Homo sapiens: one gene and its partners. The protein of the gene in region 6 purifies or fractionates together with the protein of the main gene of each other region. This does not show direct contact. Each region holds a gene or a part of one and is shown on either strand. Other genes may lie near its edges.

What was found.
Region 1: the proteins of SKP2 (region 6) and DDX11 purify together in Homo sapiens (affinity purification with mass spectrometry; 2 studies listed by BioGRID and IntAct, with this or other methods). This does not show direct contact.
Region 2: the proteins of SKP2 (region 6) and STK3 purify together in Homo sapiens (affinity purification with mass spectrometry; 2 studies listed by BioGRID and IntAct, with this or other methods). This does not show direct contact.
Region 3: the proteins of SKP2 (region 6) and OFD1 purify together in Homo sapiens (affinity purification with mass spectrometry; 2 studies listed by BioGRID and IntAct, with this or other methods). This does not show direct contact.
Region 4: the proteins of SKP2 (region 6) and KDM5C purify together in Homo sapiens (affinity purification with mass spectrometry; 2 studies listed by BioGRID and IntAct, with this or other methods). This does not show direct contact.
Region 5: the proteins of SKP2 (region 6) and MTFR1L purify together in Homo sapiens (affinity purification with mass spectrometry; 2 studies listed by BioGRID and IntAct, with this or other methods). This does not show direct contact.
Region 7: the proteins of SKP2 (region 6) and ATG2B purify together in Homo sapiens (affinity purification with mass spectrometry; 2 studies listed by BioGRID and IntAct, with this or other methods). This does not show direct contact.

What each region holds. Positions count from the first base shown.
Region 1 is NC_000012.12:31,079,534-31,083,859, reverse strand, and holds part of DDX11 (ATP-dependent DNA helicase DDX11), read right to left. Parts: intron 48-4,326; coding exon 1-47. UniProt on the Homo sapiens protein: DNA-dependent ATPase and ATP-dependent DNA helicase that participates in various functions in genomic stability, including DNA replication, DNA repair and heterochromatin organization as well as in ribosomal RNA synthesis.
Region 2 is NC_000008.11:98,706,822-98,711,147, forward strand, and holds part of STK3 (serine/threonine-protein kinase 3), read right to left. Parts: intron 491-4,326; coding exon 326-490; intron 1-325. UniProt on the Homo sapiens protein: Stress-activated, pro-apoptotic kinase which, following caspase-cleavage, enters the nucleus and induces chromatin condensation followed by internucleosomal DNA fragmentation.
Region 3 is NC_000023.11:13,758,693-13,763,018, reverse strand, and holds part of OFD1 (centriole and centriolar satellite protein OFD1), read right to left. Parts: intron 2,905-4,326; coding exon 2,299-2,904; intron 1,935-2,298; coding exon 1,808-1,934; intron 676-1,807; coding exon 575-675; intron 1-574. UniProt on the Homo sapiens protein: Component of the centrioles controlling mother and daughter centrioles length. Recruits to the centriole IFT88 and centriole distal appendage-specific proteins including CEP164. Involved in the biogenesis of the cilium, a centriole-associated function.
Region 4 is NC_000023.11:53,214,382-53,218,707, forward strand, and holds part of KDM5C (lysine-specific demethylase 5C), read right to left. Parts: intron 4,018-4,326; coding exon 3,895-4,017; intron 3,586-3,894; coding exon 3,415-3,585; intron 2,897-3,414; coding exon 2,762-2,896; intron 1,817-2,761; coding exon 1,693-1,816; intron 1,596-1,692; coding exon 1,414-1,595; intron 467-1,413; coding exon 308-466; intron 1-307. UniProt on the Homo sapiens protein: Histone demethylase that specifically demethylates 'Lys-4' of histone H3, thereby playing a central role in histone code. Does not demethylate histone H3 'Lys-9', H3 'Lys-27', H3 'Lys-36', H3 'Lys-79' or H4 'Lys-20'.
Region 5 is NC_000001.11:25,826,011-25,830,336, reverse strand, and holds part of MTFR1L (mitochondrial fission regulator 1-like), read right to left. Parts: intron 4,036-4,326; coding exon 3,926-4,035; intron 3,723-3,925; coding exon 3,511-3,722; intron 829-3,510; coding exon 507-828; intron 1-506. UniProt on the Homo sapiens protein: Mitochondrial protein required for adaptation of miochondrial dynamics to metabolic changes. Regulates mitochondrial morphology at steady state and mediates AMPK-dependent stress-induced mitochondrial fragmentation via the control of OPA1 levels.
Region 6 is NC_000005.10:36,158,443-36,162,768, forward strand, and holds part of SKP2 (S-phase kinase-associated protein 2), read left to right. Parts: intron 1-4,326. UniProt on the Homo sapiens protein: Substrate recognition component of a SCF (SKP1-CUL1-F-box protein) E3 ubiquitin-protein ligase complex which mediates the ubiquitination and subsequent proteasomal degradation of target proteins involved in cell cycle progression, signal transduction and transcription.
Region 7 is NC_000014.9:96,356,669-96,360,994, forward strand, and holds part of ATG2B (autophagy-related protein 2 homolog B), read right to left. Parts: intron 1-4,326. UniProt on the Homo sapiens protein: Lipid transfer protein required for both autophagosome formation and regulation of lipid droplet morphology and dispersion.

The DNA of each region.
Region 1 (4,326 bases), on a different chromosome or scaffold from region 6:
TCACGGAGCCAAGAGAGGGCCCCACAAATAAGACTTAAGGACTTCCCCTGCAGGAAGAAAAATGATCTTTAGAAACAGGAAAACAACAAAGCCTCCCAAATGACCTTTCCCCATTTTAATAAAAGCTTGAAAGAAGGTCTGGCTGTACATAGGAGAGGATGCTCTAAGACCAGCCTAGGAAAGGAAAGGAAGGAAATTAGCACTAGAATAGCCAGGAAAAACAGAAAAAAGAAAGAAATGGAAACTGGGCCCAAGAAGCAGGAAAAAGCTTCTTTAATTATCCAGCTCACTGTTCTGAAAACAAATTTGAAGCAGTTTATCAGATTCTATGTAAATATCGCACATAATTAGAAGAAGGGGAGACATTAGACAAAAAGTCCCCTAAAAGAATTAAGGCCCCAAAATGCTGAGCAAGAAATCCCAGGTACTCGCCAACAGGGAGCCAGAGTGACCGCGCGGCCTTCGTGCAGCTCGTGCGTGGATACAGGATGATCAGTCATGAGCGCCAGTGCTTACGGTTTGTGTTTTGTTTTGTTTTTTTTTTTTTAAGCAAACTAATCACTCTGGAAGACACCACTCTGTCTGTTTTTGAGAGGAGGTCTTGCTATGTTGCCCAGGCTGGTATGGAACTCCTGGGCTCACACAGTTCTCTGGCCTCAGCCTCCCAAGTGGCTGGGACCATAGGTGTGCGCCTCCATATACAGACTGGAGAACACTACCCTTGACTTAAGACCAGAATTTTCCATAAGCCTGATTGAGTTGTATTCCTCCAAATTCCTGTGTTGAAATCCTAACCCCCAGCATCTCAGAATGTGGCCTGATCTGGAAATAGGACTGTCGCAAATGTAATTAGTTAAGATGAGACTACTAGGACGGGACCCAGCCTAAAGGGCTAATATCCTTATTGGAAAGGGGACACGTGGATGCAGACATGCACAGAAGGCAGGCGATGTGATGATACCCAAGGAGAACACGCCACCTATAAGCCAAGGAAAGGGGCCTGAAGAGATCTTTCCCTCACGACCCTCAGAAGGGACCAAGCATGCTGACACCTTGATCTCGGACTCCAGCCTCCAGCGCTGTGGGATGTCAGTTTCTGTTGTTTAAGCCCCAGTTTGTGAAGCTTTCCTCTAGCAGCCCCAGGGAACCAATACAGTTCTTCCAGAGAGGACCCTTCAGGGAGCGCCACAAGGAGGCGGCCCTGGTGTCCACAGGGGAACTCAGCTCAGGGGAGTCTCTGGAGGACCCCATGCCTTCTGCTCCAGGCAGTCAGCTCTCTGAGCCTGCTGAACCCAGAGGGGATCTCAGAGTATCCAGGGCGGGGTGAAACACCTCGTATGACTACGGTTGGGGCAGCAGCGCGGCGCAGGAGTCAGAGTCTCAAACTCCACAGCCAGGTGCCAGGGTTCCAGCTGTCTCCCCCACCTGCAGCTCTGTGGCTCAGGCTGGCCTCACTACGCTTGTTTCCACGAGTGCAGAAATGGAAATGACAACAGCGGCACCTTCCTCATAGAGCTGGTGCAAGCAGGACATTAACACACACAAAAGGCCAAATCCTCTGGATTAGAGGATTACCTGGCAAATAACAAGTGAGCGGTTGGAGTTAGCTAACTTTTTGCTATCATTAAGTAATAATAATAAAATTATTAATAGCATTATTCTGGAATATGGGATCTATTAGTTTTCATCAAAATCTTGAAAGGCCCTGGGATAGGATAGAATGACATTGTTGACAAATGGATGGATCCCATATTTTTAGGAAAGCCCCATATGTACCATTTCCCTCAGCTTTTGATAGAAAGTAAATGGCAAAGAGTTCCAGGCAGCATTTCCCAGCAGCACCTGGAGGGCGGCTCTTCTGTGCTGTCTGTGATATCGGAAGCAGTCAGCTTCAGCTGTCACTGGGCTGGGAGACACAATGGTTAGAAAGCCAGTGCCCTCCATTTGAAAGTGAGCTGAGGAAGTTCCTAAGGGTATGGTCAAAGTTATCTTTCAAAAACAACCGTGGTATACTCCGGCACAACAGCAAAAGAATAACTGAGGCCCACTGTTTTCTACATCGTGTAATAAGACCACAAAACTTTTAGACTGGAAAATGTTAAAAGGATTTATAACCAAAGGCTCACCTTCCTGGGGTATCATCAACAGTTACATGATTTATGCCAAGATAAGCAAATTCATTCACTCTGAACACCTGCTGGTTGCAGCAAGCATGGGGCTCAGAGCTGAGGACACAAAGGTGCAGAGCCCCTAGAAAATGCTCACAGGTTCACATGTAACATACAATTCGAGGGCATCATAGATCCCCGCAAAGCATGCATTCCAGGTTGGATGACTCCCGGAACTGCAGTATTACACAAGGCACAGCACACACCAAGTGGTAATGGTGACTCAACTTGATAGACCTGTATAAGGCTTAAAAGGTGACTATCAAGGATAAACAGCATCTGGGGCAGCTAAGGTGGGGCACCTGTGCATCCACGGCGGGGAAGGGCATGGTAGGCACAACAGGTAACACAAACCCCACTCAGGGTGTCCCACAGCATGGCTGCTTCTATGGGCTGCGGGACACCCAGGACAGGAGAAAACACTCTATTCAGGAGATGATTTAGAAGACAGAAGAATGTCAAAGGTAATAAAGCCACAGGGTACATTCACAGAGACTGCACACAAGAAGATGAAGCTATAGAACCAGAAACATCGACAATTAAAGGCTGAGCAGAGGAAGAAGACGCAGAAGCCTGGAGTGCAGAAGACTGAGATGGAAAGACCTGAGAGGGAGAAGATGGGTTGTCAGGCTAAACAAGGTGAAAGGGGTCAGGTACAGTGGCTCATGCCTGTAATCTCAGCACTATGGGAGGCCAAGGAGGGAGGATTGCTTGAGCCTAGGGGTTTAAGACCACCGGCCTGAGCAGCATAGTGAGATCTCATTTCTACAAATTAAAAAATTAGCTAGGTGTGATGGTGCACACCTGTAGTCCCAGCTGCTCAGGAGGCTGACGTGGGAAGATCACTTGTTGCCAGAAGGTTGAGGCTGCAGTAAACCATGATCTTAACACTGCACTCGGCCCTGGGCAACAGAGCAACACCCTGTCTCTAAAATTAAACAAGGCAGAATGAACATGCACTCATCTGTGTTCCAAAGCACACTAAAATTAACCAAAGTAATATGGAGGCTTACACCCACAAAAAGAAAGTGGAAGGAGTAATATGTTTTAGGAGAGAGGGAAAGAAGGCAGAGACATGGAAGTGATTTCGGCAGAGACACTCAAGCCCAAGTGTCCCCAGAGATCTCCCCCACTCATTCTCAGAAAGACTCAGGAAGTGGTAGGAACACAGCAGGCCACTGAAAACAAAGGGACGGGTTGAAATTCTTTTTAAGAACAATTAGATTCTCAGGTTGCAATCCCTGCTCCTGCTCCTTGCAGAAGACAGGAAGTGGGCTCTAAGTGGAAGCTGAGCTAGGAGAGCCCTGGAGGCAACCGGCAGATTGAGGAGGCAAGAGGGAGGGGGAGGAGGGCCAGGCTGAAAGCAGGCACTGAGGGGGACTCTCCACCTGGATCCCCTTCCCCAGACCACCTCCCGGAAGACCGGCTATTGGGCTTCAGCGTCTGTACCTGCTGGGCCAGGGCTCAGAGGCACCTGCTCTGGAGAGACTGAAGACTCTAGGGAAAATCCCACAGATGTGCTGGCAACTGGAGGCCCCCAACAAAGGAGCCCAGCCTGGCAGCCACAGCCAGTGCCCTGCAGACTCAGCCTTTCTGTGCCCTGTTCTTCAGCATACACAGGCAGTCCAGGGCTGCCAGACGTTTGAGGAAAGCCTCCAAACGGACGTATACCCTGATGTGGTGTGGGTGCGGCCGTCTGTCCCCATTAACACTCATGCTGAAATCTGTCAAGTCAGTCTGAGGAGCAACTAATTCAAATGACAGGGAAAGGATGGAGGATTCCAGGAGGGCTCCAAGGTAAAAATGGAATTGGTCACTGCTGTGGACTGAATTGTATCCCCACCAAAATGCATGTTAAAAAAATGTTTTTAAAGAACAAAAACAAAACAAAAGAAGCTGTGTATGGTGGTGTGCACCAGTAATCTTGGATCTTGCCAGCCACCAGGTACTTGGGAGGCTGAGAGGGGAGGATCGCTTGAGTTCGAGACCAGCCTGGGCCACATAGTGAGACTGCCCATCTTAACAAACAAACATATGTTGAAATCCTAACCCCGCCATGTGACTCTACTACAGATCTGGCCTTCAAGGGTAAAGGAGGTCATAACGGAGCAGCCATAAGGGAGCAGCCCTTGTCCTCATAAAAGAGAAAGAGACACCA
Region 2 (4,326 bases), on a different chromosome or scaffold from region 6:
TCCACAGGTAACTTATCCACACTACCATCATTAAACACAGTCATTAAAGATAGTGCTACAATGATAAAAGCTACAGAAATGAGCTACGTAGCTTCCCTTTTAGAACATTTAAGCATTTTGATTATAAGATATATTTTCACATTCAATCACCCTAAATTATAAATTAAATAATACTCAAATTTGGCTCAATTATGGTTCCTTCTCCACAAAAATTAAAAAACTACACATTTCTTTCCATTCCCCCTCAAAAAGTAATTGAAGTTTAGTTATAATCAAATCTGAACAAATTAGCCAAGTGTTTAGAAAACCATTAAAGTTAACTTACTGTTAACTGACCAGCCACTCCAAAATCTGCCAATTTTGCATGTCCTTCTGTATTGAGGAGAATATTTCCAGCTTTTATATCTCTGTGTATTTTTCTCATAAAGTGCAAATATTCTAGTCCTTTCAATGTAGATTTAAGAATGGTTGCAATTTCATCTTCTATTAACTGGAAAGAAATATTTTTAAAACCATAATTAAAATGCCACGTTAGATAAAATCTTACGAAAGAGCACTAGTAACAAGTATGTCTTTCCGTGTGTGTGTGTGTGTTTTTTTTTAAGAGACCCCACTCTGTTGCCCAGGCTACAGTGCAGTGGTGTGATGATAGCTCACTGCAGCCTAAAATTCCTGGGCTCAAGGCATGCTCCCACCTCAGCTTCCCGAGTAGCTAGAACTACAGGCACATGCCAACCCAATAGGCTAACTTATTTTTATTTTTGTAGAGATGGGGATCTCGCTATGTTGCCCGGGCTGGTCTTGAACTCTTTGCTTCAAACAATTCTCCTTCCTCAGCTTCCCAAAGTGTTGGGATTATAGGTGTGAGCCACCATGCCTAGCCACAAGTACTTCTTTCTAATGACCGCTAAACCTCCAGGAAAATGCTAAAGGGGTAAATAATCGAGAACCTCTTCTTCCCACAATAAGCTTTCTTATTACACATTTTACTAATGAAAGGATGATCAAATTTCTCTCTTTAAGATTATCAGTATCAGCAGGGCGTGGTGGCTCACACCTGTAATCCCAGCACTTTGGGAGGCTGAGGCGAGCAGATCACTTGAGGTCAGGAGTTCAAAACCAGCCTGGCCCACATGGTGAAACCTCGTCTCTACTAAAAATACAAAAATTAGCCAGGCGTGATGGCGTGCACTTGTAATCCCAGCTACTCAGGAGGCTGAGGCAGGAGAGTCACTTGAACCTGGGAGGCAGAGGTTGCAGTGAGCTGAGATCACATCACTGCATGCCAGCCTGGGCGACACAGCGAGACTCCATCTCAAAAAAAAAAAAAAATTATCAGTATCATTCCTAAAGCAAACAACATATCTCAAGAATCAGCCTGATATAAGGAATCATAATAGTGATTTCCCACATCTTCTAATACTGGGAGGGCACTATCACAGCTAATATCTGTTCTGAAAAAGTAAATTCAGATACTTCCCCTGAGATATTTCAGATTCTTGATGAAAATGAAACCAACAGCTTTACATAAAGGAAAGTAAATGAGGGAGGGAGGCTTGCAATGAATCTTCTGCGAGAAGCTCCTACACCAATGCCACTCCTAACCCTTCCAAGTTCTGGACTTCTGACCTAATATTGAGAACTCAGAAGAAAAAACGTCAGAGAAAGATTAGGAAAATGGAAACACAAGCAAAGACTATCAGAGGAGGGAAAAAGGGGAGAGTAGAGAAGGCCGAGGAAGAGACGGATGGGAAAGAAAGAAAATCTTCTTAACAGTTGTAGCAGTAGAGCCACTGCTATCTGTACCAGGCAATGTGCTAAGAGTTATGCATGCATTCTCTCATTTATTCTTAAAACAACCTTGTAAGGTAGTGTGATATTATGAAATCACAGGAAATATTTGGTCTTTGTAGGTTCTTGGCACAAAATCTCCTAAGACCCTGTGAATTGACTGAGTGAGTGAGAAGTTGAATCAAGATATTTTATCTTTGTTTTCTCACCCTCTCACAAGAGTGAGAGGGGCTGTCTTTTGTCATTCATAATAAGCTCCTTTCAACCATACCAGAATTTATACTGATCAGGTGACTCTTGGTGGGAGCCTAGATAGCTTCAGGATGGGAGCTGGTTGCCGAAAAAACCAACCAAGTGATTAGATGTTTGGAAATTTCTGCCTGACCCCTGACTTACGGGAGGGCTGCAAGGAGAGAGGGGGTAGAGATTTAGTTAAGCACAAATGTCCAAAGACTTAATCAATCATGCCTATGTAACAGAATCAACCATAAAAATTCTAAATGATTAGGGACTGCTCTCAAGCTTATATTCTATCTATAAGCAACGGGATAATTTGATAGAAAATAGGATAACACAGGAAAATGTCTGTGAAAATTGCTATGAGGACAACAATAGAGAGCTACTGATAGAGAACGACTGAGAAGCTACTTTAGATTGACATTCAAGAAGGCCCAAAAGACATTTTACTGAAGTCTAAATGATATAATGGGGCCAACCATGTGAATGGCTATCTGGGAACATACACTCCACAAAAAGGAAAAAAAAAGATTAAAATATCTTGATTCAACTTCTCAAATTTTCTAAAACACTGAAGAAAAGAGAACACTTCCACACTCATTTTAAGAGGCATTATTCTGATATCAAAGCCAGACAAAGTTACCACAAAACAACTAAGACCAATATCCCTTATGAACATTGATACAAAAATCCTCAACAAAATATAGCACACTCACTTCAACAGGATTGTAACAGGTTATACACTATGACCAACTGGAATGTATTCCTGGAATGCAAGGTTGATTCAACATACAAAATCGAACAATGCAATACACCACCTTAACAGAATGGAGAAGAAACCACATGATCATTTCAAATGAAAACAGAAAAAGCATTTGATTAAATTTAACTTCTTTTCATAAAACACACAACTAATATGAATAGAAGGAAACTATCTCACCATAGTAAAAGCCATATACAAAAAACCCAAAGTAAATGTCATACTCAAAGCAGTAAGACTGAAAGCTTTTCCACAAAGATCAGGAACAATGAAAGGATGCTATTAGGTTGGTGCAAAAGTAATCGCAGTTTTTGCCATTTTTTTTTTAAAGTAATGGCAAAAACCGAAATTACTTTTGCACCAGCCTAATACTTCTGTTACATATAGTACTGGAGGTTCTAGACAGAGCAATTAGGGAAGAAAAACAAATAAAGGCATCCAAACTGGAAAAAAAGAAGTAAAATTATCTCTGTTCACAGATGATATGATCATATATGTAGAAAATTCTAAAGATTCCACAAAAAAAACCTATTAGAACTAATAAATAGGGATGGAGACAAGACGGCTGAATAGGAACAGCTCCAGTCTAAAGCTCCCAGCGTGAGCATTGCAGAAGACACATGATTTCTGCATTTCCAACTGAGGTACCAGATTCATCTCACTGGGGAGTATCGGAAAGTGGGTGCAAGACAGTGGGTACAGTGCACTGAGCATGAGCTGAAGCAGGGCGGGGCATCACCTCACCTGGGAAGTGCAAGGGGTCAGGGAATTCCCTTTCCTAGTCAAAGAAAGGGGTGACAGATGGCACCTGGAAAATCAGGTCACTCCCACCCTAATACTGTGCTTTTCCAATGGTCTTAGCAAACGGCACACCAGGAGATTATATCCCGCGCCTGGCTTGGAGGGTCCTACACCCATGGAGCCTCGCTCACTGCTAGCACAACAGTGTGAGATCAAACTGCAATGCGGCAGCGAGGCTGGGGGAGGGGCGCCTGCCATTGCCCAGGCTTGAGTAGGTAAACAAAGCAGCCAGGAAGCTCAAACTGGGTGCAGCCCACCACAGCTCAAGGAGGCTGGCCTACCTCTGTAGACTCCACCTCTGGGGGCAGGGCATAGCCAAACAAGGCAGCAGAAACGTCTGCAGACTTAAATGTCCCTGTCTGACATCTTTGAAGAGAGTAGTGGTTCTCCCAGCACACAGCTGGAGATCTGAGAACAGACAGACTGCCTCCTCAAGTGGGTCACTGACCCCCAAGTAGCCTAACTGGGAGGCAGCCCCAAGTAGGGGCAGACTGACACCTCACACAGCCCGGTACTCCTCTGAGACAAAACTTCCAGAGGAACGATCAGGCAGCAACATTTGCTGTTCACCAATATCCACTGTTCTGCAGCCTCCATTGCTCATACCCAGGCAAACAGAGTCTGGAGTGGACCTCCAGCAAACTCCAACAGACCTGCAGCTGAGGGTCCTGACAGAAGGAAAACTAACAAACAGAAAGGACATCCACACCAAAACCCCATCTGTACATCACCATCAT
Region 3 (4,326 bases), on a different chromosome or scaffold from region 6:
GCAGGCGGATCACTTGAGGTCAGGAGCTCAAGACCAGCCTGGCCAATATGGTGAAACCCCATCTCTACTAAAAATACAAAAAAACTAGCTGGGTGTGATGGCATGCACCTGTGGTTGGTCCCAGCTACTCGGGAGGCTGAGGCAGATGAATCACTTGGACCTGGGAGGAGGAGGGAGATTGCAGTGAGCCAAGATCGGACCACTGTACTCCAGCCTGGGCAACAGAGAGAGACTCCATCTCAAAAAAATAAAAATAAACATTCTTGTATTCCATCAAAGGAAAAAATAAATAAAAATCACTTATTTAAAATCTGATAAGTTAATAATTCATTTATAAGCTTAGCTCAAACTCTGAAATTATTAGTCATACTGAAATTTTTAAAAAGTAAACACACACATGAAAATCATCATGGTAGAAAAATGAGGTGATACATCTGTACTTGTGGTTGTATCACAAAATAATAATGACCCAATTTGTAACTGCTTTTCTTTTTAAACCAATGGATACGTTTCACCAAAACTAAGCTTTCTAGATTTTCAACATATAAAAACTGGTATTTATATTTGAACTTACATTCAAAAGATGATTCAAACTCCTCATTATCCTTAAAAGCTAGCTTGTCCACATCTGAAAATTCACTTTTGTCTTGAAGTTCAGTTTGTCTTCGATAAAGACTAGATTGGAAGGATAAAACTCGTGAAGTTTCAATAATGGAAAACCAAAGAGTACAAGGTGACAAAAAGCCTTTTGTGACTCAAGAAAAGGCTCTACAAAATTCCCTTTCTCTTTGTCTTGTAAATAGCTCCACCTCACCACCACCACTAGGCATTGTTCTCAGCAATTAATACCTGTTTAATCAGTTACTCCTTGTAACTATTTCATGCTGTGAAGTAGGTACTACAGTTGTTAATAAAGAATAATGTTGTACTCTGAATGCTATTCCTAGGAAATAACCATAAAACATTTCTGAAAAAAAATTCTGCACACTATCAGCATGAACCAGATGAAGATGCAACACCACAACCTTGAGTGAGCAAAGCGCCCTAACTCAGCATATGTGTGTGTCTTATCCTTCCTTTTGGCTTATCACAAAAAAAAAAAAAAAAAAAAAAAGCTTTAGGACTACGACAGGCCCATGTGGCAGAGAACTACATTAACATGCAGATGCCCGAGATCGAGCCTGGAGCTAAGGAGTCAGTTCCCTCTGCTGTGGGGCCCAGGTATGGGTAGGAGTCTGCTCATGACTCAAATCATAGCCTGGCTGACCCAGTGGACTAGTTTCTAAAAACATCCACTCCTTCCTGTTTCAACAATCATACACCAGAGCCTGCTACCACGTTTGAATTTATTTCAATGATATGCAGGTCAGAACCTTATCTGTTTATATTTCAATGCCAAAATATTTTAAAAATGACTTTTTAATGATGTGTAAAATTGTTCCAACTTTATAAATAACCTCCATTTGTTTGCTTTCAGATTTTGTACATTTGTTTTTTATCTTAATAAACCAAATCTATTCACAGAACTAGGAAGATGCTTATTAATACCAGATTGCATGGTCCATATATCAAGTTTAGCAAATAAGCATTATCCACTTATTTGCTAAAAGCAATCTTTTTCCCTCCAGGTAATTTAGATGATTCTCAAAGATGACATATCATTTTGCAATCTGATTGCAAATTCTATACTGCCACATGATCTATAATAATTATCTCAAAAAAAAAAAATCCCAGTAAAACAAGTGAAGGCTGACAGAGCAAGTAACATTATTCAGCTGAAGCTAATCAATCAGAACGTTATACTTACCCCACTTTCTGCTCCGGAGGGCTGGAGACAGGAGGGATGGAGAGGCTGTGCCTAGACTCAGTGGGTGATGGTAGGGGCATTCTGTCAGGACAAGGACTGGGGGAAGCAATGTGTGATCTGCCCAGACCTAAGGTGCAGAAAGAACCAAGGCAAGAATATTACCAATTGCACGGAGAAGATACCAACGTGGTTTCTAAAGAGCTCTACTAGTTTGAAAATAAACTGTTATCCTCACAAATAGCCAATTATGATGCATAAGATCCAGAAAACTAATGATTCAAGCACCTAAATTAAATTGCAGTGGCAATAATAAAATGCAGGAAACCAACAGGCAGCAAAGGCAAGGCAACTATCACTCTCTAAACAGCTCTGTGTGCCAAACACTAGACCTTGCCACTCTGGCCCGCTGACCCTCACGGCAACCCTGTGTCGTGGGCAGGGTGGCTACCCAACTCCAGAGCACCCCGCAACCCTTTGTGCGGGTGGCTTACCTTCCAGATACATTTCACTTTCGAGGCTTCTTTTTGCTTTTGGAAGGGGTGTGGAAGAGAGGCGTCTGGAGGAAGTGCCCCCGCGGAGCCTCGAGGCTGCACTGCCTGTCAGTGCTTCCACGACGTCATTCCTTTCTTCAAGTGTGCCCACTTGAGGCTGCTCAGAGACAACTCTGTCCTCTCCAAAAATATGTCTTTCCGGGGAACTGGAAGTAATGTTTTTGAAGGCTTCCAGCAAGTGCAGAGATGGTGGGCTCTTTGCTGCTAGTGGGCTTTTGGCAGAGTTTTTAATGACTCTCCGATGGTAACTTCTGAAAGCCTTTTCCAAGCGTTCGGCCTCTTGCTGAAGCTCTTTGACCCTTGCCTTAGTATTGGCTACAAACTCAAGGTCAGAATCAGGGGAACTACCCTCCACCCATGCAGTTGGATAATTTGTGATCCTTGATGCAACCATACGTGCTAGAACGTTTTCCTGTTTAAAAGGATTGTTCAAGAAATCCCCACTTATCTCACCATTGCAAGGCACCACATTGCCATTTATTAATCCATTGACAGAACGATCGATCACAGACTGCTTTGGATTGCAGTACACTTCATTCTCTAGGGCTGCAGGGTACAAAAAGCCAATTTCAGAAGTAAGTGGACAAGGCAGAGAAGAAAATATACTTGAGAATATTATTTTTTTGAAAAATGGAAGAGAGTAATAAGGACAAACTTGCACTATACAGTTTCTGAAGCCATGGTAACGATAACCACTAACATTTACTGAGAGCTTATTGTACCAGCTACAGCTTTGTATGTCTTTTGTAACATGATATAATTTCAGAATCCATTATGCACAATTTTGAAAGCCACAAGGCTCTGAGAACTGAAAATTTATTCATAATTTATTTGGTGGCAAAGCCCAACCAGACTTGAACTCATTTGGTTGAAAAGTTTGACCTGAACTGATGTAAACCCATTTATAATCTTTATTTATCCCAGCATGAATATTCATACAGTTGACTGCAAAATAATTAATGTGCTTTACTATAGGATGCTGTTCAGAACTCCCAGGGCTATTGCGAAATCCACAGCATATGGCCCGAGTTTCATATAAGGAAGTGAGGACCTGCATTCACAACAACACTGTGGTCAAGAAACTCTCACTGCTCCCATTTTACAGATGGGGGGACTAAAGCTTACTGAGGCTGGGTCACACGGTTAGCAAGTCTAAGAGCTACTGGGCTTTCCTAATGCAAAGCCAGTGCACCTGCCCCTCTCTCCTGCAATGCCTCCCCGTGATGCTACAAGAAAGAAGCTTGCCCTCGGCAACACATGCATGCGAAAGAGTTCTATCCTCATTCAACTATTTTTTATTGATAGGAGACTGCTATGATTTCAGCTGTGAGAAGTTTCACAAACAGAACTGAAAGAAAATGAGGAACAGAAAAAAGCAGAAACGAGTAGAGATAAAAATAAAACAAGTGCTGGTAGAAGAGAGCAAGGAGCTGATGAGGAAACAATGCAGGTGGGAACAAGGAAGGCTCAGACCCAGTTGAACTGGTAACACATACGTACTTTCTTTGAACTTGAAAGCAACTGAAGAATAAAGTATCTGAACTTTAATATCCTTCTTACGAAGTAGGAAGGGGCAGAGATGCATCCACAGTGAAGACACAATAATAAAATGATACCAATAACCATTTCCTGAGTGTCTTTTATGTCCCAGGCACTGGACTGAAACCCATTTCATCTTTTTCATCATGGCTCAGTAGGTATTATTATCCCCATTACAAATGAGGAGACTGAGGCCCAAGGAAGTTAAAGTAACATGCCCAAGGTCAAACAACTTCAAAACGGGTCCAAAAGAAGAACAGTTCTGATTCTGAAGGCAATATTCTTTTTGCTAAACCACCCTGCTTGTCCTGTATATTTATATATCTATCAAGGAATCCGTAAAACTACTGAATTGGTGTTAACATTGGGGTAACAAATAAAAAAGGAAATCCTATAATGAATATGGGGACTTCTATGTTACCACCACGC
Region 4 (4,326 bases), on a different chromosome or scaffold from region 6:
GCTATTTTCCTCTCCTCTGAACTTCTATATCTCAGAGTTTCTAACACACAATTTAGCCTCTGTTTATATGTCACCACATATAGTCTAATTATGATGCTTACCTCTCCAGGTGGTCTGGGAGCTCTTAGAGGACAGAAGCAAAGGCTGAATCTCCTGCTCCTTTCTCCCAAAGCTCTGCCCAGCCTAATCCCACCACAGAGACCCAAAACCTAAGACTATGGCTGAGCTAAGAGGCTGCCCTCAATAAGGCCAGATGAAGGAAGGCAAGGAAGCCCTATGAGGCAGATGTGGAGTGGGGAGGCCTTACCGCCATGACACACTTTGGGCACCGCCAGACACCCTTGGGGATCTCAGGCAGAGGAGGCAGCAGGCAGAAGATGTGGTAGTTGTCATCACAGCCATCACACAGCAGGAGCTTGTCATCCTCATCCCCTCGAGAACACATCCGGCAGACATATGACTCAATCTGCCAGGGGAGAAGAGCAAAAGTTCTCCATTGGAAATCCACTGTGTTTGCTGGCTGAATGATTTACAGCCCTGTATAGGCTAGTCATGCTAGGTCTGGAGCTCAACTGCACGTATGTACCATCTCCCCAAATAAGCAGGTAGAGCTGCAAGAGCAGTCTTTTATCATCCAGTCTTGAATCCTCCCATTTTTATTCATCCAATAAACACTTACTAAACCCGTATTCAGAACTACGCTGGACTCTAGCACAAAGACAAGACATGGTATCCTTCCAAGTATATACAGTACTCTAGAGACATGTGTTCATAAAAATTAAAAATTGCCAATAGCGGTCCATAAAGGGCACTGTGGGAGCCTAGAGAAGGAAGCACTCAAAGCAGCTGGAGATAAGGAGGGATGGCCTTGAGAAAGGACTTCATTGAAAAGGTAACACCTGAAACTGGCTGAAACCTGAAGGCAAAACAAAACATGGCAACAGGGCAGAGCACAGGGGGAATCTCTTCCAGGCTGAAGAAACAACATGTGCAAAGGATAGGGATGAAAGAGCATACTGCATCTTACGGGGAAAAATGAACATACCTACAAGGAGTTCAGTGTGGCTATAGCAGAGGAGTGAGGTGGGCAGTGCTGGGGGATGAGGCTAGAGGTCAGCAGGGACTGGATCATGCATGGTAATGAGGAGCTTAGCCTTTATCCTGAAGCAATGGAGAGTGAGACTCCTTCTCTGGACCCTTCCAGCACTTCATGTTGACAGCACTTGATCACCCTTTCTTGCTCTTTGTTCCATATGAGTTGGCTTTGTTTCCCCAATTAAGTGAGCTACCTGAGGGCAGGGCCCATGGAGGCCCGCTTTTGTGGTTAATGCGAACTGGTCCAGTGCCATGCAGGGGAATGCTTATTGAAGGGACAAGAAGCAGAGCATTAAGAAGTCAGGGCTGGGTCCTTACAAACTGGGCATTGCTGTGGTTCCTCCGTAGCCTCATGGTCATCTTGGTGCAGGGTTCTGGGCTGTGACTCAGCTCCTCCTTGCTCTCCAGGAAGGTCTTAGGCGATGTTGACTCCACCTTCACATCCCCACCTAACTCCTCCTTCACCACTACTGTGGGGGGACACTCAGGCCCCTCCTTATCTGGGAGAGAGAAAAATGGCTGTAAACACAGGTCTAGGACACTTAGGGCCCTGACTTTTCTCCCCAGGTGAGGCCACCCCAGCCTGTTAGGCCTTACCTTTCTTCCGCAGAGTCTTGTCTTTGGCCATGAGGCCCAGGCCCATCATCTTGGGGCCTGCCCCATAGATCTGTAGCTTTTTCAGCTCTGGATTCTTCTCAATGTCTTCCTCTGTGGGTTCCGGCTGGAAGGAAAGAAGGAAATGAATCAAGACTGCTATCTGGGGCAGACTGTCCCATCCTAAAAGAACAGTAACTCGGACTACATATCACCTGATCTCATGCTGAGGGCTGAGGCACAGATGGGCTAAGCCAAGAACTCAGAGTTGCTTTTTGGAGACTGAGGGTAGGTGAGCTGCCCCCTCGGCCCTCTCTCAGAAAGGAATAAAAGACAGGATATCTCAGTTTTCCCAACTGTAAAATGAGAATATTACCTCCTCCCTTATAGTTATGAGGGGGGTTAGGGACAATACATATGAAAAAGCTAACAGTGTTTGGCATTACCAACAAATGGCAGTCTAATAGGATCTGCTAAATTACATGCTTCGATGAGCCCAGGGACAGTGTCCATCTTGTTCTCTATTGTATTCCCAGTGCCAAGAATGCCTGGCACATAAGCTTCTGCCTGAAGACATAGCTACAAGGAGCTGGGAACAGTGGTACACACCTGTAGTCCTAGCTACTCCAGAGGCTGAGGTGAGAGGATCACTCAAGCCTAGGAGTTCAAGATTATAGTGCATTATGATCAAGCCTGTGAATAGCCACTGTACTCCAGTCTGGGCGACATAGCAAGACCCTATGCCTCAAAACAAAACAAAACAAAAGATACAGGTATAAAGAGAAAGAAGAGTTCTACTTCTATGAGCAGAGTAAGTCCGGAAAGGAACAAAACAGGCAAGAAGAGCAGACATACAAAAGAGGTTGCACAAACAGATCAAGACCCAGCTCAGCAGCTCAGCTGAGAGGGGAGAAAAAAGCAAGAGTGAAGCCAGAGAGAGGCACACTAATGCTCAGAAGAACTCAGAGAACAAAAGAAGGGATAATGGAACAGGGAACACAGCCTTAGCCAGAAGGAAGGAGAGGACTCCCTCCACCTCAAAGCTCTAAGTTCGAAGAAGGGGAGTACTCACATCAGGCTGCAGTCTCTTGGCCCGCCGGCCATAGCTGTTGAACTTGGAAGGCTGCACAGACTGTCGTAGGGGGATGCTGTGGGGTTTGTATTCCTTGTCCTTCTCCTCATTATCAAATGGACGTGTGTTACACTGCTGGGGACAGGTAAGGGGTAAGGGTCAGGACATGGACTCCAGCCCGCAAAAGCAATAACTTCCCTCTACCCTCACCCAATGGCATCCAAAGCTGTGGTCCACTCACCTGACCCACACCAACAGCCCCTGTTCCACTGGTCTTTAGCACTGACACCAGCACACATTTTGGGAATTCTCAGTACCTTTGCTTGTATCACTCCTCCCTTCCAGTCACTTCCTCCACCAACCATCTCCCCAACTAAATCAGACGCCATCTCTTCCCACACCTTCTAGCCCAAGCTCTCCCTTCTCTGATTTCTCTATCAGTTAAAACTTTGTCACATAACAAATAAGCTAGCCGTACAGATAACTCCAGGACCTCTGACCCTGAGCAGTGTAGAAAGAGAATAAGCATCACTAGGAAAGAGCAGAGTCCAACTCCCAGGTCTCCAGTCCACTAAACCAGTTTCATTAAGAGCAAGTGTGGAAATCTGTGCTGAAGGGTAAAGCCGCACCCTGCCCCACTGTGACATCCTTACCACAAGGTTGGCTCCAGACTGGTACATTTCATAGGGATAAACAATGCGTTCGTAGTGGGAGCGTAGCAAGGAGCCAATATTTTTGCCTGGTGGATAGTTGAGGCGCTGGGCTACCCGAGCCCACCGACGGTCCTTGCAGATAGCTTCATAACCACCTTCCTCCACCACAATCTGAAAAAACAAGTAGGAAAAGACATGGATGTGCCACGTGTATTTATATGTGAGGGAGTAGGCCTGTAGAAAGGGCAAAAGGGCAATGAGGGCAACTCTAGTCCCTCACTTCACTGGGGGCTATCCCCTTATCCCAACCTCAAATTGCAGCAAAAGATTCCAAGATGTTCTGATGACAGCTTGTGTGCTACCAAGCTGTGCCCCTTCCATTGCAGCCTAAAGATCTAATATCCAAACTAAGGGGGCCCCCAGAGTATCAAGGATATTGGGGTTTGGTGGGAGGGGTGCTTGACAAAAACCTGTTCTTACTTTGCTGAGACTGTAGAGGTCCAAGATCCGCCGTTCTACATTGGGAATCTTTAAGGAGGAGCCCTGGATTTCCCAGAATTTGGCAATCTGGTCCAAGTAGTTCAGTTTCACTCTCGTCTGGGCCTGAAGAAGAAATGGCTCAAAGAGGCTGGCCACCCCCTCCCACTGACCACTATCTTTGGGTCCAGTCTTAGGGGAGAACAGAGGAATACAGCACTCCACACTTTCACTACCCAGGGTTTCTCCCAATGAACCGGATCCCAGACTCTAGGCAGTGCTTAGCCCCACCTCACTCTCATTTCTTTCGTTTTTGTTTTTTTGAGACGGTCTTGCTCTGTCGCCCAAGCTGGAATGGAGTGGTGCAATCACGGCTGACTGTAGACTTGACCTCCTGGGCTCAAGTGATCCTCCTGCCTCAGCCTCCTGAGTAGC
Region 5 (4,326 bases), on a different chromosome or scaffold from region 6:
TGAGTCTCAAAAGCCTTATTCTCAAATCACTGAATGTGCAGGGTTTGTTTGCACAATGGACCACTGTATTTTAAAGCAGAAATCTCCAACTTTATGAAATTCTCCTCCCACCAAAAAAGTCTACCAATTTGAGATAAGAAAACATAACAAAACATAATGTCATGCAACCCCTCACTTTGAAGGGTGGGCCATGAAGACACTGTCACTAGCAGTATGAGGACTGAAGTGGTAAAGCCACCTGAGGACAGAAGTTGGATTAGATGAGCCTTCTTGTAAAATCCCTACTAGCCTCATATTTGGTTGGGGTGACCAAACCCAATAAATGTAGTGTTGCTCTTTCCTCAAACTGGGGCCCCAGGCACTGGCAAGCAGGTAGTCAGCAAGCTTTATGAATGACATAACATATGGTACTACTAAGAACTTACTATGTAAGTATGTTGCATTACATAATTGGCCATGGGCAACTCTGAGTAAATAGATACCAGAGCTCCTCATCAGATACTTACAGATCTTGACTCTGTTTCATTCGGTGAAAGTCCTTCAGGATACCCATCATGTCTGCAAAGCTGCTGGCCTTGGACAAAGAGACGCAGTCATCCTCTTCAGACGAACTGCAGGCAGCTTTGTGTTCTGGTTTGCAACATTCAGGGCTGGCAGAACAAAGCAGGGGGACTGATGGAAGCTCAGGGACCTCCACCTCTGTCTCCTCGGTGATGTCACTAATGACAAAGGAAGTTGTAGAGTGGAATGAGGATCCAAAACAAGGTAAGGGAGAAGAGACATTTGAACTTCCTGGAGATAAGAAATCTGGCGTTAATGAAGCCGAAGCTGAAAGAGAAAACAATAGGCATGGGTGGACATTGGGGCTAGAACACAGTAGCAATATCTTCTCCCCACAGCCCTGCCTACTGAACATTCATTTCCTGGGCTGACACCATGACAATCTGGGAGAGCCAGGATGGTATCTGTAGCCAGTGGAGGGTCATTCCACTATGCTTCTCACTCGGGGGCTCAGAAAGCTGTAGAAGCACTGGGCTTTTCCAGTGTTCCAGGAAGGCAGGAAAACCCAGCCCCATAATGGCCTTGGCATTTAAAAGCTCCCATTCCACAATAGGCTGTGGAGTGACAGCCCTGTCATAGGCCAAAGCAGCAGAGATAAGAGCTAAGGCCTGAATTTGTCCTTTTCTCTAACTAGACTAGTGCTTTTGACTATGCTCCTTTGAAATCTTGCTATCTGTGAACTAGAAGACATGTTCTGAGCAAAACCAGAATGGTAACAGACCTCCCAACCTCCCCAAATTTCAGTGGAGAGAATTTCCTCAGTTTTTACATTTCTAAAAATACTTTAAAAACACTAAATACACTAAAAACTATGTTTCTAAAAAAGATGTTACTTCTGCTTGTCTCTTGGATGACAAAAAAGTAGCCAAGAAATAACAAAGTTTCAGTACAATTCTTCATAAAACTTCCATGTGAAGAAATTAAATACATGAAGATTTCAAAGAACACCATGATTTTCATGTGTCCTACCAAATGATAAATTTCAGAGCTATGACTCTGAGTCAATGCAGAGTGAAAAAATGAGGATGGGAGGAATATGAAGATAAGCCCTGAGCATCTTGGGAGCGATCCACCTGTTGGCTGTCCATGCCTCTGGTTAAGGCAGGCTTCCCATCCATTTCCAGTGGTTCTGCCTTAACTGTAGACAGAAAGCTGGAGGGGTGGGTTACAGGGCTTGTTTGCATAATAGACCACTGTTTTTTTTTTTTCTTTTTTTGAGACGGAGTCTCACTCTGTCGCCCATGCTGGAGTGCAGTGGTGCAACTTCAGCTCATTGCAACCTCCACCTCTGCCTCCACCTCCACCTTCCAGGTTCAAGGCACATGCTGCGATGCCCAGCTAATTTTTGTATTTTTTATAGAGACAGGGTTTCACCATGTTGGCCAGGCTGGTCTCGAACTCCTGACCTCAGGTGATCCACCCACCTCAGCCTTCCAAAGTGTTGGGATTACAGGCGTAAGCCACAGTGCCCGACCACTGTATTTTAAGGCCAAGATCTCCAACTTTATGAAATTCTCCTTCCACCAAAAAAGTCCACCAATTTGAGATAAGAAAACATAACATAATGTCATGAAACTCCCCACTTTGAAGGGTGGGGCATGGGGACAATGTCACTAGCAGTATAAGAACTGAAGTGGTAAAGCCACTTGTGATTCCTGGTAGAAACAACAAGGCAAGGGAAGATAGGTGCTTAAAAAGGGTAAGTCTCAGTGGTGGTGGGGGGAATGTTTACTTCTTGTATTGAAAAGGAAAGCAGGGCGCGGTGGCTCATGGTTGTAATCCTAGCATTTTGGGAGGCTGAGGCAAGTGGATTGCTTGAGCTCAGGAGTTTGAGACCAGCCTGGGCAATGGCGAAACCCTATCTCTACTAAAAATACAAAAAATTAGCTGGGCATGGTGGCATGCGCCTATAATCCCAGCTACTCGGGAGGCAGAGGCACGAGAACTGCTTGAACCCAGGAGGTGGAGGTTGCAGTGAGCCAAGATCGTGCCACCGCACTCCAACCTGGGTGACAGAATGAGACTCTTGTTTCAACCGCGGGCACAGTGGCTCATGCCTATAATCTTAGCACTTTGGAAGGCCGAGCTGGGTGGATTGCTTGAGGCCAGGAGTTTGAGACCAGCCTGATTAATGTGGCAAAACCCCGTCTCTACTAAAAATAAAAAAATTAGCCAGGTGTGGTGGTGCACACCCGTAATTCCAGCTACTCAGGAGGCTGAGGCACGAGAATCGCTTGAGCCTGGGAGGCAGAGGTTGCAGTGAGCCAAGATTGCGCCACTGCACTCCAGCCTGGGCAACAGAGCAAGAACCAGGACCCTGTCTCCAAAAAAAGGAAAACTGGCTGGGCTCGGTGGCTCACACCTATAATCCCAGCACTTTGAGAGGCTGAGGTGGGTGGGTCATCTGAGGTCAGGAATACAAGACCAGCCTGGCCAACATGGTGGAACTCTGTCTCTACTAAAAATATAAAAATTAGCCAGGCCTGGTGGCACACCCCTGTAGTCCCAGCTACTCAGGAGGCTGAGGCAGGAGAATCGCTTGCACCTGGGAGGCAGAGTGCAGTGAACTAAGATCGTGCCACTGCACTTCCAGCCTGGGCGACAGAGCAAGACTCACTCAGAGGAGAAAAAAAAAAAGCTACTGTGGGCTTATGTAAGATGTGATCTTAAAGACACTTAGAAGAGGGTATCAGTTTGGGGGCTAAGGGAGGGACTCTGCCTGGGGTCACAGGTTAATATTTTGTTCTTAACCAAACCATTCAGCCCAAAATGGCTGGTAGAAACCATCTAAGAGGCACTACTGGCTAGCCAGGCTTCAGGACAACCCCAGGGCCCGGAACCTAAGTACCTGCAAACCAAGGATTACCACTTTCTTTACCCCTATCCTGCCCAAGAGCCAGGGGAAAGGAACAGCCTGTTACGTTCTGGCCCTGGCACAGGGGCTCCTACCTGCATCAGCTGCCACTATCTTTGCAATCTGGCTGCGCAAGTGGCTCAGCTCGTCCTGCAGCTCAGTAGTGCGGCTTAGGGCTGGCAGAGCTGGCTTCTTCAGGGCCAGAAGCCTCTCCTCGGACCCACGCAGGTTGGGAACAGAGGCATTGCGCTGCATGACAATCAGAGGGCTGGGTTTCCAGGTGTGCCTCAGGGGGCGCGTATCACTCCTGGACCAGGGAAAACCAAGTAGATCAGTTAGAGACAGCAGGCCACTGTGCTCCTAAGGTTCCTTCCCCCACTTCTGTGAGAGTAGTATAGTAAGGTTCTGCTCCTCTCTGAGCCCACAGTTCTCATTCCTCTCTCCTTGCTGCCTGCCACCTCTTCTGGGAAGTTCTCCATTCCTTAGCAGACCAGCTACTGCCTCAACTACCTGACCCGGGCATATGTCTCCTCTTCATCCGCAGCAATCCAGGCGATGTCAGCCAGGGTAGGGACTGGGGGCACATCTCTCAAACACAGGTCAGAGATGTTGGGCAGGGTCTATGGAGAAGCAAAAGTCATCAACATTTACAGATGCCATGATGAGCCAATCAGAAACTGCAGAATACACAGGAGGGGTACCTAATCCGGCACTGGGTGTCAGGAAGGCTTCCTAGAGGGGGCAGAAGAAGGTTCCTGGTCGAAAACATTGAACAGAGGCCAGATGACAGTCAGGCATGGTGGCTCACACCTGTAATCCCAGCATTTGGGAGGCCGAGGCAGGCAGAATGCTTGAGACCAAGAGTTTGAGATCAGCCTGGGCAACATGGCAAAACCCTGCCTCTACCAAAA
Region 6 (4,326 bases):
CCACCCGGGGCCCCTAGGATTAGTGTCATTCTGTGGTCAGCTGAGTAAGAGCACTGGGTACTTGGCTGCTAGCTGAGTATGTGTGTTTTCTAGGACCTTGCTCCTTCCATTTGGTGGTGAACCCATTGATAGCATCTTTGTTTTATTTTCTCTCTCCTCCTCCACTCACTCCCTAGCCCTGATTGATTTCTGTTTCCATAGCAAGTCCGGGTTTAATTCTCACCTTTTCAAAATTTGTACTTACAACAGAGGAGAGCATAGAATATTAGAACCCACTAGGATGGAAAGGGCATGATTTGAAATCAGACCTGAGTTTAAATTCCCCCTCTGCCACTTACTGATTGTGTGACCTTGTCTCTTTTATCATAGTTGCATGTTTTCTTGAAGCCCCAGCCCCCATCTCCCAGAGACTACAGCTATACTGATAGAGGACATTCCCTTCTGCTCTGGGTTTTTGTCTTCAGCCTCATCCCCTCCATATGCCAACAGTGCTGTGCACATAGTCGTTAATTGGTTAATAAGGGTTAGCCATTCACACTAATAAAGAATTAGCACATTCACCATTTGAATGAAGAGGGCTAATAAATACATTTGGCAAATATTTATAGAGTCCTGTTATGTGCCAGGCATTGTTAGGTAATGGATGTGCAAATCTGGGCATGGGGCCTGTGGTGGTATCCTGGGTGGGAATGCTTCTTTGAGCAGGTGCCATTTAAGCTGAAATCTGGAGGAGTTGGGAAGGCAAAGATGGAAGTTGCAACACAAAGTCCTCCAGACTTTGGAGTCTCACATGCAGTCTTCATTGGTTAGGTCTACTGACCTCTGCATTCATCACTATGCCAGATTTTCCTCTAGCACTTTAATTACCTGGCTGCTACTGCTCTTTTAATTGGTCCTGATTTCTTATGTCTTCCTAATAGAAAGCACCAAGTTTGTTAATTTATTTCTCCTGCCCTGTACTTCATAGCAAGCTTTTCTAATTTCCTTTCCCCAGCCATAATTTCTGTTGGTGCCCTATCTATAGCCCCTTGAAGCCCCCCATTCCCTTACATGCCAAAGCTTTTGCCTACGTGTAGATGAGATTCCATGCCTGAGGGCTTTCTCTGGGCAGGAATACTGGGGAGTCCCCAAATAGTGACCAACAGCAATTGATGGATTAATACCCCAGCACTCGTGCCCTTGGTTGAGACAGCTCTGGGGTAGTTTCTAGATGGTTTACTGGAGTCCCCAGAAGATTTGAACCCCAATTGCCCATAGGGATAACCTGCCTATTAGCCTACTCCAGGTTGGCTTTCTTCCCTTCCACCTCTGTCTTCTCCACTCTTTCTAGTGCTTCCTGGCATCACTTCCCAAATAAACTACTTGAAGTCAGAGCTTCAGAATCTGCTTCTGGGGGACCCAAACTTAAATAAAGGGCAGATACGGGGTTTTGGTAAGTCATACCATGCAGACCTTGTCCAGTGTCTGCCCATGGGTGAAAATTCAGAGCAGCACTGAAAAGGTCATTGCATGAAGAAAATACCCAGACTTAACTGGGAAAGGAGAGGAATATAGAAAAGAAAGTTTTACTCCCTGCTGCATTATTTAATCTTTTCTTGTACCTCATTTACTCTTCACTGAACAATTTTGCAAGATAAATCTGTCAATTTCCTTTCCTGCAGGTAAAGAAACTGAGGCCAGAAAGATTAAGTAACTTGCCCAAGTTCACAGACTTGGGGCAACACAGCCAGGATTCTGATAGAAACTGTGCTGCTTTCTCAGTCCAGTAGTCCTCAAATGTGTTGAGGAGGCCCAGCGTATGGTGTCAGTATGATTTTTACAGATTATAGTAAAATCTCAACATATTAGATTCAAAATAGCTAAGTATGTTATTGAAGTATAGTTAAGCTTACTCTTCCATAGAGGCCACTTCCTCCAGGAAGGCTTCCTTAACCTCTGCACCATTCCCATGTGCTGCACAGCACCCTGAATCCTGCTGTAGCCCATCAGGATAGTTTATTGAAATTTCCTGTTTAATTGTTTGTCTGTATCTCTCAAACTCAGAGTAGAATAAGGGTCAGGATTGTACCTTACTTATTGTTGTGGCCCAAAACCTAGAACAGACCTCAGTGTATATAGTACATGGTTAATAAATACGTGAGTGGATGACTATACTTATAGCTAAATATAGTTATGCCCAATCAATTACTAGATTCTGATCTAGATATGTAAGAGGCAGCAGAGGTCTGAGAGAGTTGGATTAATGGGAGAAAAACTTGAGAAAAGCCTGTCATTCAACTTTGTTTTCAATTTGGGGAGCAGGGCAAGAGCCTGGTTTGAGAACCTTTGTCCCCTGCCCATGTTGACTTTGGAGGAACTTTGTGGCAGTGATGGAACAGCTGCCACGTCGAGGAGCCTCCTCACAACCTCCAGCTGCCTCCCCAGATCAGCAGGGGTGATCTGCCTTCAGCTTTCTACCCCTAGCTTTCAGGGCCTCAGTCAGTCCTTTAATTTTGTCCCCTGAAGGGCGTGAGGCTAGGGGAACAGGCATTCATTGAACAACTGTGTATCTCCTACTCATTCTTCAAGAGAGGCCACTTCCTCCAGAAAGGCTTCCCTAACCCCTGCGCCATTCCCATAAGCTGCACAGCACCCCGAATCCTACTGTAGCCCATCAGGATAGGTTATTGAAGTTTCCTGTTTGTCTATATCTCTCAAACTCTGAGCAGAATAAGGGTCAGGATTGTGCCTTATTTATCATTGTGTCCTTAAAACCTAGAATAGACCTCAGTGTATAGTACATATTTTATAAATATGGGAGTGGATGAATGTATCAATTTTATGCTAGTTCCTGAAAATACAAAAATTGTTAAAAAAAAAAAAAAAAGCGTTTTTGTTTCTCAAGAGCTCCTGGGGGTCTAGAGAGATGAGTAAGTAAATAATGAAATTATGGTACATAAGTGGCCTGTCCTTGTTGATGTCACGGGAGGCCTTCTGTGGGAACTGGGGCTTCCATTTGATTTTAAATGAATAGTAGTTGGAGGCAAGCACAGGATGTGCAAAAGCATTGAGATACGGCACAGAATGACTCATTCTAAGAATTACAGGTAGCTCCAAATGGCTGGAACACATTTCTAGATAACAAACCTAGGAAAACTAGTTGAGACCTGGCTGAAAGCGTTTAACTTTGTACTAAGCATTGTGGACTTTAGCCTAAATACCTGGGGTGTACCACTGAAGGATTCTAACTGGGGGAAAGACATGCTGGTTTAGAAAGACTGCCCAGGGCAGCAGGTGTTTGTCACACTCCTCGGTGTTTTTCTCCCTTGTGTCCTCAAACCCACTTATACAGGGCCTGGTACAAAGGACATGCTCAGTAAAGACTGGCACCTTTAAATGGGAGTAGGAGGAGAGAATATCACCAGAATTGGTGTAGAAGATCCATCAGAGGTGGAAAGCCTAGGAAGGCAATCATTGAACTCATCTGACTGTTTTTTAGGATTCCTTCATTGTGCATTTATTTCCTTCTTGGCAATTGTTACATTATCCTGAGCTTGTGGGATTATTCTATGTATTCATATGTAAGAGTTTCATACTTGTTGAATAGTTATTTAGAGATTGCTTCTATGAAAGAAAACTGCGCTTCCTGCATCCACCTTTCTGTTCTAAACACAGCAGCCAGAGTGATCCTTTTTGAACTTACGTGAGGGCCTGTCATTCCTGTGCTCAGAATCTTCTAGTGGTGCCTCATAGAATTCAGCGTCAAAGCCAAAGGCTTTATCATGACCTAGGAAGCCTGCATGACCTGGCTGCTCTCTGATTTTTCTACCCACCTACCTCTGCGCTCTACACTGGCCTCCTTGCTATGCCTCAAACACACATGCTGTTCCTTGGATCTAGAACACGTACACCAGATACTCACAGGGCTCACTCCCTCACTTTGTTCAAGCCTTTGCTTAGTGATCGTCATCTCAGTATGGCCTTCCCTGACCACCATGTTCAAACTTAATAACATCTGCTCTGAACTCTCTGTTCTCTCCCTTGCCCTGTTTAATTTTTCTGCACAGCACAGATCAATTTTACTATATCATATAATGTACTTATTTTTTGATGTGTGATTATCTGTTCCGCATTACTGGAATGAAGTCCCACGAAGGTAGTGTTTTGGGTCTGATTTACTACTCCTTCCCAACACCTAAAATGATACCTGGCACCATAGTAGGAGCTCAGTAAATATTTGTTGAATTAAGAAATGACAATACCCTTTTGTATTGCTCTTTTAGGTAAACTGTGCCTTTTGTAAACCTGAAAGAAAGCATATTAGTCTGTTCTCATGTTGTTAATAAA
Region 7 (4,326 bases), on a different chromosome or scaffold from region 6:
AGGGGCCAGAAGCCTGAATGTTAGCAAATTCCCAGGTGAACCCAGTGCTGTTATGTCTGAGAAGCTCAAGTTTCTTGAATCTGGGGCAGTGTGGTGTACAAAAAAAAAATATAAAGTCAGAAAGACAGGTTTCAAACCTTGCTGCACTGTTTAATACTAAGCTTGAGTAAGTTATTTAACCTCACAGTAAACAGAAAGTTAGTACCCAATTTAGAGTAAAATAATGTATGTAAAAGCACCCACACAGTACAGTATATAGAGATGGAAGGTATTTAATAAATGATCATTATTATTTTCAAAAGTAAACTAAAACCCCTAACCTTGCTCCATGTTCCCCCTAGCCATCAACCCCATTTTCTCTGTCAAGGTAGTTATCTGCTCAAACTGCAAACTACAAGCGACCTTCTAACCCTCAGCTCCTCTGAAACTGCTTGTAACCACCATTAAAATGACAAATGCAATAAACAATATTTAGTCCTCATCTTTATTGAATTCTCATCTCTACCTAGTTCCTAGGACCACTCACCTTTTTTGAAATTCTAACTTCCCTTGACTTCTGTAACACTTCACTCTCTCAATCTTTTTTCTGATCCTTTACAATTTAAAATGTTGGAGTTCATCTAAGTTTCATCTTCGGCCTTTTTTGTTTCTCAAGCTGATCTACTTACTACCCACGCACTTTGTGCAGTTCCATCTCCTGCCACTGTTATTCACTATTGATACTCTGATAACTCCCATATCTTTACAACTGCAATCTTCCTATACGTATATTCCCAGTGCCTCCTGAGCTTCTCTACCTGGATCTAAAGCCCCCACATTCTAAAGCCCCCTCAAAAATCAATATAGTAAAACTTATTCTCTGTCCAATCTCAATCTCCTCCTCCCACTCCCAACTCCAGACAGTGGAGAAAACCTGCTCCTTCTCTAGAATTTCCTATTTCACCATCAACTAGGTACCACAAGTTACGGTCATCAAGGTTCTTCCCTCTACTTGTGTTTTTCAGATTTTTTCATAGTTTTTTTTTTTTAAGAATGTTTGACACATTCCATTAAAAAAATGGCCCATCATAAAAGACTTCAAAAGGTAAGTAGAACTGCTTGCTTCATGTATTAAGTATTTCCACAACTAAAAGTTTGAAACTTTTGTACCATATTGTTATCTCTGGAAGAGATGGGATTAAGCTCTATTACTTCATACCTCATATATTTCTTTACTGTTTGAATTTTTTGTAATGAGCATATATTAATTGTATAGTAAAAATGAACTATTAAAAACCTAACAGTGTTTAAAACATATGGAGGCAATGACTTAGCTTCTGCAAACTGTCAACCTTAGACAACTATGAGAGAAACGGGACTTGATGGAACTCTCTTCTCAGTAAACACCAAGTTTTCGTCCCAATTTTGTGGCAGAGAAGTTGAAATAAAGTTAAACCTCTAAATACAAAAAGGTTTATTACAGCAGTGAAGAGTAATATTAAAGGGGCCTGGTACGGTGGCTCATGCCTGTAATTCCAGAAACTGGGGGGGGCTGAGGTGGGAGGATCACTTGAGCCCAGGAGGTCAAGATCAGCCTGGGCAACATAGTGAAATCCGGTCTCTACAAAAATTAAAAGAAATTAACTGGGTGTGGTGGTGTACATCAGTAGTCCCCACCTACTCAGGAGGCTGGATTGGAGGATCGCTTGAACCCATGAGTTTGAGGCTGCAGTGAGCTGATCACACCACTGTACTCCAGCCTAGGTAACAGAGACTGTCTCTAAAGAAAGAAAAGGAAAAAAAGAAAAAAACTGATAAATGTTAACAGTTTTGGAGAGTCAACAGTTCCAGAATTTACATTGCACCACTAAGCTACAAAATAATTTCCCTAAGTATAAGATGTTTAAATAGGTTATATTTATGCCCAGTCTTATAACCACTTGAGCAAAATCCCATATATCTTGTAGCATAAGGTACCTTGAAATTCAGTCATTCTGGGAAAATCCAAGGCTACTATAGTATATGAGTAGTAAAAATTCTCAACCTACTTGGCTCAAGCAACATTTTCCACACCAGTCCTATGAAGTGTTTCCTCACCAGTCCTATCAAGTATTTTTTTTTTTTTAGTCACCACTATGCTAACGAGAAAATAACTCTTAAACTAAAAGTGGAGACACCTGAACTACTCAGCAAATAAATGCCCCACCATAGAGTCCTTTAGAGCTTTTTATTCTTCTGTTTAAGGGTATTTTGCTTTCAATTATCATCAATGAGTTTCACGCATATAAACAGAAAAAGTGAAGGTAACACTCTAGTCTCCAGGTGACCTTTGACAAATAATCAGTAATCAATGTTTCTTGAACTGAAGATAATTTTATTAAACACCAAGAGAATATAAGCAGCAATCGAAACATTCTTAAACTGAAGTTAAAAGGCCTCAGTGGCCAGGCGTGGTGGCTCACGTCTGTAATCCCAGCACTTTGGGAGGCCGACATGGGCAGACTGCTTGAGTCCAGGAGTTCAAGACCAGCCTGGGCAACATGGCGAAATCCCGTCTCTACAAAAAATACAAAAAGTAGCCAGGTGTGGTGGCATGCACCTGTAGTCCCAGCTACTGCAGGGAGGGGAGGAGAGGTAGGAGGATCGCTTGAGCCTAGCAGGTTGAGGCTGCAGTAAGCCTAGATCACGCCACTGCACTCCAGTCTGGGTGACAGAGTGAGACCCTGTCTCAAAAAAAAAATAAAATAAAAGGCCTCAGTGTAATAAATTGTTAATGTGTATCTTCTTGAGCTCCTGTAAGAAAAGGGTCTTTGTTTAGTTCACTGCTATATCCCCCAGCCCCTCACAGTGGCACATGCTAAGAGCTCAATAAATGTACTGAATCGATTAATGAAAGAAATTCCATTTAAAAATCAAAAATAAAGGCACAGTCATAGAGTTAAAAAGGAATGAGTCATTAAATCCAACTTCCCACCCCAAATAGAATTTCCTCCTTTCAACATTTTGCCATTTCAACCACTTCTAGGGACAAGGAGTTTATGAAATTTTTAGACAGTCTATTCCAATGATGGAACAATCCCAAACCCCTTGCCTCTATTTCTCCCTCCACTTCATGCCACGTTTAAGGTAGTAATCTCCAAAACTGGATGCATATATCCTAAAGTATTATCAGATGATTCATAAGGATGTGAGAGGAAAATGAGACATTCTATATTAAATTTTCCAAATTTAGATTGAAAAGTTGTACTTATATTTAATATACAAATGGGCACTGGCACCTTCCTTCAAGCCACATATCAAACTGGTACAAAGAGAAAACTAGTAGTTCCACAACAGAGAAGGATTAAGAGTGGTGCCCTCAGTTGGATGTTCCTTCCACTTCTGCACACTGAAACATTTCCACATACATTCTATAGAATAAAACCAGACCTTTAAACAGTAGAATCTTTGTAAAGAGAAAGTGAATGGCAATTACCTTCTGGTTTCCTGGTTTCTCCTATGGCCAAGTGTTTAAGGGTTGGATTTAAAGATAAGCATTTTCCTTTTACACAGAGAAGAATTCTCCACTGACTATTTATGTATTTATGACAATGACTATCAGTAGTACATGCTACCTAGCAGATATTTTCCAAAAAACAAAACATACTTAATCTGTCTTTTCAAAATAAAGATAGCACTTTAATAATGAGTAAGAAAGCAACCACTTTTCAAAGACTACTTGTACTATGAGGAGAACATTTGAAAAACTGTATTTGGAAATGTTTCCATTGTTCCATGATTTTGTTGCTGAAAACAATGTCTATTAAAAACATTGCTTATTTTTTAAGTCATTATCTATATAGTTTACAAAATGTTTAAAAACATGAAAAGACTATTCCAACCAATCTAAGTCTTCTGAACAAAGAGCTTGAAAAACTGAATTTTAAACCTAATTGTGTGTATATATGCAATGTCAATTAGCCATAATAGAAAAACTAATTGAGATCAGGAATGAAAGGAATGTCATTGCTGAGTTCAACAAAATTCTTTGCATAATTGATCATTTAGAATTGAAACAGTAGGAGTACAGCAATTCTTCAATTAGCATCAGTTTTTCCATTAGGATCTGTGAATCTCCGAAGGTACCTTTTTTTCAGTCATGTAAGTCATTAAAATCAAGTATCTGGCTGGGTCCTATGGCTCATGCCTGTAATCTGAGCACTTGGGAGGCAGAAGTGGGAGGACCACTTGAAACCAGGAGTTCAAGACCAGCTTTGGCAACAAAGCAAGAGAATGAATCCTCTACCAAAAAAAAAAAAAAAAAAAAATCAAGTGTGAAAATAAACTGAATTTGGAATCAGAACTCTG